Linked DNA regions of Homo sapiens: region 2 is linked to region 1. The links come from fine-mapping of genetic effects on gene expression. A gene starts in region 1. The other region holds a variant in brackets. All regions are shown on one strand. Distances are between the middles of the regions. Region 1 holds the start of PTBP2 (polypyrimidine tract binding protein 2). Region 2 has its middle 72 kb from the start of PTBP2.

The links. PIP is the estimated chance that this variant, and not a neighbour inherited with it, causes the effect.
Region 2: its variant is the best candidate, but not a certain one, in a credible set for the expression of PTBP2 in whole blood (INTERVAL, PIP 0.83).

Annotation. Positions count from the first base shown.
Region 1 is chr1:96,718,827-96,724,202 of GRCh38, forward strand. PTBP2 (polypyrimidine tract binding protein 2) reads left to right here and starts at 2,958. Exons shown (of 14, transcript NM_021190.4): 1 at 2,958-3,046; 2 at 4,738-4,768. The coding sequence starts at 3,039. RefSeq lists silencers at 2,724-2,923, 3,154-3,433.
Region 2 is chr1:96,647,063-96,652,448 of GRCh38, forward strand. No RefSeq gene overlaps it. Among named protein-coding and RNA genes, the nearest start is that of PTBP2, 72 kb to the right of the region's middle. The variant G/A (reference allele first, on the strand shown) is at 2,431.

The DNA of each region.
Region 1 (5,376 bases):
ACTGTAAGTAAGTAGTTACTGAGCTAGGGAGGTGCCTTAGATACGTTAAGGTATTTAATTCACAGTCATCTAGGATGAAGGCCCTATTTTTTTCTTTTTTTCTTTTCTTATGAGATGGAGCCTCTCTCTGTCGCCAGGCTGGAGTGCAGTGGCGCGATCTTGGCTAACTGCAACCTCCGACTCCCTGGTTCAAGCGATTCTCCTGCCTCAGCCTCCTGAGTAGCTGGGACTATAGGCACGTTTCACCACGCCCGGCTAATTTTTGTATATTCAGTAGAGGTGGGGTTTCAACATGTTGGCCAGGATGGTCTCAATCTCCTGACCTCGTGATCTGCCCGCCTCGGTCTCCCAAAGCGCTGGGATTACAGACCTAAGTCACCGTGCCAGGTCCAAAGGCCCTATTTTTAATCCTATATTCAGCAAAGGAAAGTTTCCTGGAGAGGTTAATGAACATGCCTAATGTCACACAGGTATTAAACGAAAGAGCTCAAATCTGAATCCAGGCTTTAATCAATATGCTTTTGTGTACACTGTTGCATTAGCCTCATTCCTGACTCATGCTATGCTTTGTCCTCTTGTTTTATTCTTATTTCACTTCATGTCTTAATCTAGTACTTTATGTGCCTTGACTTGTAAATTACCTTGCATTTTTCCAAGAAACTGTTAGCTTAAATAAGCAAGCAGATTAACTATTGTATGTTTGTGGTCTTGTACCGTATTCGAAAAAAAAATAAAGAAAAATGTGTTTTTGTGAACACTGTAATTTCTTCTGCTGCCTAAGGACAAGCTTCCCTCCTCATAGAATGGTTTGTCTTTGCCAAGATAAAGTGAGAACCAATCAATCAATATCGATCGAGCGAATGTGGGGAATACCAAGAATTAATACCATAGTTCCCGCCCTTTGGTAGCTTGCACATTCAATTGTTGAGTGAAAACACATGTATGAAACCACAAATATGTGAAAAGTGATTATTAGTGGCACTAATAACAGATCCTTTATTTTAAGGTTTAAGGTGAAGTGGTTATTGTAGGAAATTTGATATGTGGTTTTTTTTTTTTTTTTTTTTTTTGAGACAGAGTTTCGCTCTTGTTGCCCAGGCTGGAGTGCAATGGCGCGATCTTGACTCACCGCAACCTCGGCCTCCCAGGTTTAAGCGATTCTCCTGCCTCAGCCTCCCGAGTAGCTGGGATTACAGACATGCACCACCACCCCGGCTAATTTTGTATTTTTAGAAGAGACGGGGTTTCTCCATGTTGGTCAGGCTGGTCTTGAACTCCCGACCTCAGGTGATCTGCTTGCCTCGGCCTCCCAAAATGCTGGGATTACAGGCGTGAGCCACCGTGCCCGGCCTTTTTTTTTTTTTTTTTTAACGATTGACAATCCCATAGGCAAATCAAGAATTTGTAAAAATTTGGGTGCTTTGAAGAGTTCTATAGCAAAGTGTTTGGACAAGATGCTCTTTAAGGGTCTATCCAATTTAAAAGTAATATTATTTATGGCCGGGCACGGTGGCTCACGCCTGTAATCCCAACACTTTGGGAGGCTGAGGAGGGCAGATCACCTGAGGTCAGGAGTTCGAGACCAACCTGACCAACATGGAGAAACCCTGTCTCTACTAAAAATACAAAGTTAGCTGGGCGTGGTGGCGCGTGCCTGTAATCCCAGCTACTCGGGAGGCTGAGGCAGGAGAATCGCTTGAACCAGGGAGGCCGAGGTTGCAGTGAGCCGAGATTGCGCCATTGCACTTCAGCCTGGGCAACAAGAGCGAGACTGGGTCTCAAAAAAAAAAATTCTAAAAATTATACACAATATCATTTAGTATATGAAATTCCAATTAGCAAAGGATAAGAGCTTTGCCTGAAGGAGACACAGAAAAACCCAGAGTGAGTATTGAGAGTAACTGGAGGGACACAGGGAGTATTTGTCATTTTTCAGAATTAGAAGTGCATTTGTCCTTGTGTGTGTTGGGGGTGGAGGTGAAGGGTGCAGGAGAAGGATGGGTACTGGCAAAGTCGCTACTCACTGAGCAAATTTTCAAGCGGGTGCCTTTCCCAATTTTGTTGAGCCTCTGATAAAAACACGTTGAAGTAAAATGTCCACTATAGTATCAAGTAAAAATTGAGACCGTAAGATATAGCAAAGGGAGTCAATTTGCATAGCCCATTTTAATGCTTCTACTTTCTCTAACCAATCTGAAGACTCAGTTGTTCCCACTCCCATCTCCACTTTCCCTTTCATGCCTCCAAATGTTAAACTCCAACTATTGTAGCATTTTAACACATGGCTCCATTTGTGTCTATTTCCACCTAGCGTATTGTGAATATTTTCTACAGGCGCACACTAATCACCAACTGAAGTGAGAATCACATTTTCCTCCACTTGGCTTGGTACTACAGGTCTTGAAGCAAAAGCCTGTATTTCAGTCTGAGGAGTTCTACTTGCTTGAGAAAGTACTGTTGTTACCAAGTGGTCTCGTTCAGTGGGGTAAAGATTTTTGTTTTAGAGGCTGGAGCCGGTCTGCAAATAAAAGATGGCTTAGGAGAAAAGCTATCCAATGTTTTTTCCTTGGCCCGCATAGGTTGACGGTAGCCAAGCTGGTACTTGGCTTGGAGTGAAAAGTGGAGGCTGCCTGGGGGCGTCCTGCAGTCAGGGCAGAGAGAGTGTGGAGAGCTGTTGGGAGGTGTCCCACCCACGCCCCCACAAGGAGGGGAAACCAGGTCGCCGCGGTCTGCAGCAGAACGCCAGGTTCCAGAGGACGGCAGGCGGAGGGCGGAGGGAGAAAGGCGCGCGAAGGCGCGGAGGAGGCGTCGGCTGCGGCGCCCACTCCCCCTAGTCCCAGCGCCCTGCCGCTCGCCTCCCGCTGCCGGGCGCCGGCGCGCTCGGCTCTTTCCGCCGCCGCCGCTGCCGCGCGGTGGCCCGTGCGCCTCGGCACCTTCGGCAATTTCCGTCGGGCCCCAGCCGCCATTTTCTCGCCGCTTGTGTGGCTCGCTGGCTGCGTGGCTCGGTTCTTGTGAGCGAAGCTTTGTCCGGTTCGGCAATGGACGGGTATGTAATCGGGCCGGCGAGAAGGTGTGTGTGAGAGAGGAGTTGGACCGTCCTTCGGCCCGGTCCCGGGCCGGGGAGAAACCCTCCCGCGGCCCCTCCCAGGGCTGGGCTGCCGTTACCCAACCCCCGCCCCATCGCACACACCCCTCCCTTTGCTTCCCCCGGCGGGCTTTGGTCGAGAAAATGAGAAGAAAGCGGGCTTGGAGGCTGGGGAGGCATAGGGGCGATGGCGGGGGTGAGGATCCCGGAGTGGGAGCGGGCACCGGCTTGGCGGCGGGGGATGGGGTGGGAACCCCATAACGTCTCCCCGGTCTGTCCCTGCCCCCTCTAGGAGCCATTTCGATCCGTACCTTGGGACCCGACCCTTGGGTTAGCGGTGCCTGTGAGAGCGAGTGGGATGGGCAGAGACAGGCCTTTGGATTGGGGGAGCCTCTAGGGGAAGAGGAGAGAGGCACCCCATGTGGACCCCAGCCATGAGCAACCTCTCCGGCCTCGCCCGGCCCTCCGTGGTCGGGAGAGATGCCGGTGGCGGGAGCTCCGGGGAAAGCCTAGTGGGAGCCGCTGGGGAAGGGGGGAGGGCGTGCGGCGGCGGGAGGAAGGGGGAGGGCAGATGTCATACTCCTTTGTTTTCATTTGAGTCTGGTAGTGGGGGCGGGAGGGAGGAAAAAATGCCTTTTTGTGGGGACTGAAAACATTCAAGGCTTGGCAAAAGGGCCCAGAAATTAAATCATCTAAAAAACGAAGTGTTTGAAGCCGACATCAGTCACATGGGCAAAGGCCAACAGCAATGGCAGAAACAAGAGCAGATAGTCAACAAAGGGCTATCTCTTTAGCTACTTTGGTCAGTTTCTGGAAAAACGACTATAAAAACCCAGAACCATGCTGCATCTTTGCGAACCTGAGTCAAGACGGAATGCTGAGTGAGGTGAGAGGCAAGACTGTGAAATGGTAGGGACCGATGTCTCGCTCATATGCTTCACACCTGAAAAGACTCAGTAATTTAACTCAATGTTAGAAAGGGGGCACGCTTAAGGTCAAAAATACAGCAGTATGCAGCTCTTTTGGGAGTGTAAACATAGTATCATTTAACAAGTACATTTATTAAAATCAGTGAGTATTTGAAGAATCAACAATTTGGTTAAGCGCCTAGAGTTTGGTGTGTTTTAAAAGGTACTAAAAACAAGATTTTATAAAAGTTAACACAGTCTCACAGAATTCAAATCATCCTAGATGTTACCTAAAGATTATTTTCCAGATGAAACAAATCCAGAGAAGTTCAGTATTCCCCCCAGATCAACACGGAAATTGATGTCAAAACTTGCACTAGAATTCATGTTTCCTGATTCCTGGTTCCTGTGGAGACTACTAAAGAGTTTAAGCGTTAAATTATTAATCTCAGTATACTGGCATTGTAGAAATGGCATAGTGTTTTGGGTTTTGTTCTTTTTGGCTATTGAATGTGTTGTTAAAAAATACCACAAGTTGTCTCACATTTGAAAGTTACTTTTAGAAAACCAGGTTGGTAACAGTACAGGTAAGTCACGGATCATCTGTGGTATTTTTTATCCCCATCTGTGTGTGAGTGGCTGGAAGATTTATGAATGATGGACTATCCTAAAAAGTTTTAGAGCCAAAGAGTGAGTGATTAGAAGAATAACAGGAGGTTGAAACTACTTATTTTTTCTTTGCAGAATCGTCACTGAGGTTGCAGTTGGCGTGAAGGTAGGAAAATACTATGTTTGAAACTGGGATTGTTGGATCTATTATCATAATTACTGGAAAATTTTAGCTTTTGCTTTTGAAAACTATAACGTAGCTAACAAAACCCAAGTGTAAAATGTTTCCTTTCATTTGTAAAGTTGGACCATATAAACAGTTTGTAATCACCATAAGTTTTTCTAGAACTGTCAGTCTGTAAGAATAACCTTTTAAAGTAAGTATGAATGATCAAGAAATTGAAAATGCTTTCACACATGGCTTCTTGTAATATAAAACGATACCCCAATTTTCTGAGGGGAAATAATGATTTTAAATGGATGGTAAGTGGTTTGACCTATATCTTATAATTTTGTTAATCTAAGTTTTTTGTTTTTTATTACTTTTTGTCATGAAAATGAATATATTTTGGTTAATAATAAAGCACATTAGAAATGAATTACACTGATCCTTAAAAAGGAAGTTGTTGAGGCAGTTAGCTTCAAATTTGAATTAGAAGTTAAGAGCTGGTTTGTCTATTAAAGAAAGTCTTTATGGTAGAGATCCTTTGGAATCCTTCCTTTTTGGCTAAGAAAACTACTCATCGTTTAAACTTTAGTTCTAATGCTTAACAT
Region 2 (5,386 bases), 72 kb before region 1:
CAAATAATATTTCTCTACAGTGTTTCAATACAATAATACACATTTTAATTACAAATATGTATATTTGTAAATAAAAGTAAAATATAAGAACATTAGAGCATATAGTTAAACAAAAATTTTCTTTTTTAATTTTTTTTATTATACTGTAAGTTCTAGGGTACATGTGCACAACGTGCAGGTTTGTTACATATGTATACATGTGCCATGTTGGTGTGCTGCACCCATTAACTAGTCATTTACATTAGGTATCTCTCCTAATGCTATCCCTCCCCGCTTCCCCCACCCCACAACAGGCCCCGGTGTGTGATGTTCCCTTTCCTGTGTCCAAGTGTTCTCATTGAAACGAAAATTTTCAAATGTTTCCCTTTAGTTCTTACATGTTTAAAAATTCAGACAAGATAGAATAGTAATAACTAGTAATAACATACTCCAATGTTCATTCTCTCCTTTGTCCTAGGTCATATCTTTATGCATAAACATACACATACAATTTGCCACATACTTGTAATGCAGCCTTGAAATAGTTGCAAAAAAATGTAATTTCCACTTAAGGTTTATGTCTCCAATATCTTAGCACTATATTAATAGCTTTTACTCTCAATCACACTTCAAACTCTACATTTAATATTTGTACATATACAATGACTCCACAATGGTGAATATGTTTTTAAGCTTACAATATGCTTACATCATAATTAACACATTTAATAAAAATCCCATAAATAGTATCTAATGTTTTATTACAGTAGGATAGTCACATTTAAAGTCACATTTTAAATTCATGAATTAATTTGACATATTTTTTGAGCACCTGCTATGCACCAGATATTATGATTGCCTCTTTTCTTCTCTGTAGCCCATTCTGTAAAGACTGGAGACTAAGTATGGGGTCTGTCTTATTCTCCACTCAATTGCTATCATCTAACTTAGTGTCTGGCACATAGTGAGTGTTGAATAAACATTTGTTGAATGCATGAATTGGCCTTCATCTTAAAAACCTGTTTCTGTTTTCTGGACTACTTCTTAGTCATTGTGAATCTAAATCCTTCTTTCCAAAAAAGTAATTCTTTTCCTTATAGCAGAATTTCAGACTTGAATGATGATTCCATTTATTTCCCAGCCTGCTACACATATGCCAAACTGCTTGAGGCAGTACTTGAGTAAATTCTTAAGGCATCTCTCTTGCTCTTCCAATTCACCTGTACCTGAATCGAGACGACTAGACATCAAGTTCTTGGCTATCTTCTCAGAGACATTCTGTTATGGAGACCTAGACTTTTAAATAGAAGCAATACTTAATCACTAAAAAGGCTGCACAATCCAAATTATCCTCCCCACAGTGGGCAAAACTTCCTTGAACAATCTTTTCAGGCTCCTTTCTTTTAAAAGGGTAAATTCCCATAATTTAAAAGTAAATAGGTTTATCAGATTGCTTTCTTCTCTGAGAGCAAATACCCAGGGCATGTTGTGATGACGAAGAATTTCCACATAGTTCTCAGAGATTTTTGATCCATCTTGCCCATCCACATTTAACAGTAAGCCACAATATTTTATATAAACTGTTTTGTAAGGTTAGTGGTCATATAAAATGAGTCTGGTGAATGTTTTCTTTCTGAGAAAATAATTCTGTATGTGAAAACACATTTAATGGATTTTGAAAGTTACAATTGTGACATACTGAGAATGTACAAGTTTCTGCTGTATGTTATACATAATTTATTAATGGCTTTGTGAATCATTTCAGAAAGTATTACAGAGTAAAAAGTTAAAAATATATCACAAATGTCTAACTTCATAGTTAGAACCAACTGTCAACCCACCGTAACCTAGGGGCCTAATTTTATGACAAATTATTAAGTTAATAGAGTATGAATTATCTCTCATCAAAAACCATTCCAGATCACCAAACTTCTAAATGGTTCCTAGAGCTACCTGCTCCCTCATATAATTCATGGGAACCCATATTTTTAAATGCTTATAAATGTTTTCAGAAGCTGTGAATTCTAATCTTGTTCTGTCACTAACTTACTTTGTAATCCTATGTTGCTTTTTTCCCCCAAGTTTTCTTCCCACTAAAAACCAGATATTAGTATAATACTTTTCTACAAGGATATTGTGAGATTTGACTAATTAATATATGTAGAACATTCTGGAAAACTCGGAGAAGAGTTATTTGGTACATATAAAATATTATACTAAAGTTTTGAAACTGATTTAATTATACAACAATGCACATTTCCAAAATGGGTATTTTGGCACTATATTCTCTGTACCAATATTGCAATCTGAAATAATTACAGCTGCTTTACTTTCCAAAAAAGGGCAAATTTTTCTTAGGCTACACAATGCAACCTCTTTTTTTAGCTATGACTGAAATGATAGCTTTAGTGGTTTTCTATTGGGAACCAAAAGTCATATATAACAAATTCA[G/A]TAAGAGTGAGGAGAATGACTGCCACAGTTGGTCTGGGCTATGGGTGTTTATGATGATATACAGACACCATTAATGGTGCATTACTGTTCTAGGTGTGGTCTCACCATGGTTCTACATAGAGAGCCAAATTTGAATTTAAAGCAAAACTTGATGTAATAATGTCTATGCAGAAAAAGGCAACAATCTTAAGGGGTGGGAAAAACTCTGAATGTCATAATGACAACCCTAAATTTTCTTTTGTTTGTTCCACCAAACTGAAAGCAATAACAAGTCATCATCAACCTATTATGTGTTAAGTCCCATAACTTGTCAGCTACTAAAATAATTGTCCAACCACTTAAATATTTCCACTATGTGCCAGCAAGCAATGACAGTGTCAAATTTCCCTGAAATGTAGAATTTATGATCCTAGAATCCACTTCGTTTTTGCACTGAATCCCTCTGGCATATATATTCAAAACTCTATTTCTAATAACAGAATTATTTGAACTCATACTGCCTGTCACCTGTTATTCTCAAAGTACTTTGCTAATAATAAATAATTTGTGAAATTTGTCTCTGCGCTGGGTATTACCACTTCTGTTTCAGCAGCATGTCCCTGACGTTGATCCTGTTTGTTATTGCCAAGGTATGTGATTAGAGGAATTGGTAGTGGAACTGGAGACCAAGGCCAGATTGCAAGGTGGGTGGCTGGTGGTTCTGCTGCTTCTTTGTGCTGCACTTGTGGAAAACAACAACAACAACAACAACACTTCCAGCCATGGTTCCACACAAGAATCCATTTCAAAGTCTGACTCCCTAGCAAGACAGCAGGTGCCATGAAGCCCAGTACAGCAGCAGCAGGCCTAGGACAAAAAAAAACGCCCCAATCTACACCTGTTCATAGCTCCTTTAACCTGCACTTGATTCACTGCTCTTGCTGTAATGCTTTTTTAGTTCCCTTCATTCAAAAAGCCAACAGAAGTCCAGCATGACCATTTGCTTTGTCTGAGATGGTCAAGTAGAAATTGTAACAATGTTACAGCATTGGCATTAGGGGTAGTATGTCTTGCTTGTCTGCTTGTGTGTGTGTGTGTGTGTGTGTGTGTGTGTGTTTTAACCTATTTGTTGTAATAACACTATGGAAAAATAAAGTTTAAAAAGATAACAAATATATAAGAGGAAGCATAGGATGATCAAGTGATCCCCACAAAACAACTTAATGAAGATTTTTTATTTTGGGTGTTATTAAAACACAAGCTCTTGGTTGATGTTTCCCTTTTTCTTTGGTTAAACCTCTGATGCTATGCACCTAAGAATCATTAGTTTACTATTACTATCTATTCGTAAGTATTTGTAGATAATGCCTGGGCAACATTATCACTATTAGATTTGTTTTAACTAATTTTTAAGTCACTTGGCCATTTTTTTTAAACTTTCATTAGCAATTTGTGCAAATAAACAAATATGAGTCTTGTATGGAGACAGTTTTCCAGATTTTGTGATGTCAGTTGTTATAAGCAAATTCAGAGGCTCCAAAATATTAGTCCTGAAATGGAGTCTTTCTTTTTTTACTCAAAATGTGAAAGATGCTGGAGTAATTGTATTAGGTTGATGTAAAAGTAATCACGATTTTTGCCATTACTTTCACTGGCAGAAACCGCAATTACTTTTGCACCGATGTAATAGATTGTTCAAATTGTCAAGTATAACTTCTGAGCTCACATTTTTATATTCTTCATTCCCCATTTCCACATAGTGAACGTTAAAAGTGGAAAGATCGGATTCCGTTGCAAGATGGCCAAATAGGAAGAGCTCTGGTCTGCAGCTCCCAGCATGATCGACTCAGAAGACAGGTGATTTCTGCATTTCCAACTGAGGTACCTGGTTCATCTCACTGGGACTGGTTGGACAGTGGGTGCAGCCCATAGAGGGTGAGCTGAAGAAGGGCGGGGCATCGCCTCACCCGGGAAGCGCAAGGGGTCGGGGGATTTCCCTTTCCTAGGCAAGGGAAGCCGTGAGAGATGGCACCTGGAAAAATGGACACTCCTGCCCAAATACCGTGCTTTTCCAACTGTCTTAGCAAATGGCACACAAGGAGATTATATCCTGCACATGGCTCAGCAGATCCCAAGCCCACAGAGCCTTGCTTACTGCTAGCACAGCAGTCTGAGATCAACCTGCGAGGCAGCAGCCTGGCAGGGGGAGGGGCATTTGCCATTACTGAGGCTTGAGTAGGTAAACAAAGCAGCCCCAGGGAAGCTCGAACTGGGTGGAGCCCACTGCAGCTCATCAAGACCTGCTGGCTCTGTAGCCTCCAACTCTGCAGGCAGGGCATAGCTGAACAAAAGGCAGCAGAAATATCTGCAAACTTAAACATCCCTGACAGTTCTGAAGACAGCGGTGGTTCTCCCAGCATGGTGTTTGAGCTTGGAGAACGGATAGACTGCCTCCTCAACTGGGTCCCTGACCCCCATGTAGCCTAACTGGGAGACACCTCCCAGTAGGGGCTGACTGACACCTCATACAGGCAGGTGCCCCTCTGGGACAAAGCTTCCAGAGGAAGGATCAGGCAGCAATATTTGCTGTTCTGCAATATTTTCTGTCCTGCAATATTTTCTGTTCTGCAGACTCTGCTGGTGATACGCAGGCAAACAGGGTCTGGAGTGGACCTCCAGCAAACTCCAACAGACCTGCAGCTGAGGGACCTGACTCTTAGAAGGAAAACTAACAAACAGAAAGGAATAGCAACAACATCAACAAAAAGGACACTCACACCAAAACCTCAACTGTAGGTCACCAACATCAAAGACCAAAGATAGATAAAACCAAAAAGATGTGGAGAAACCAGAGCAGAAAAGCTAAAAATTCTAAAAACCAGAGATCCTCTTCTCCAAAGAATCACAGATCCTTGCCAGCAATGGAACAAAGCTGGATGGAGAATGACTTTGATGAGTTGACGGAAGTAGGCTTCAG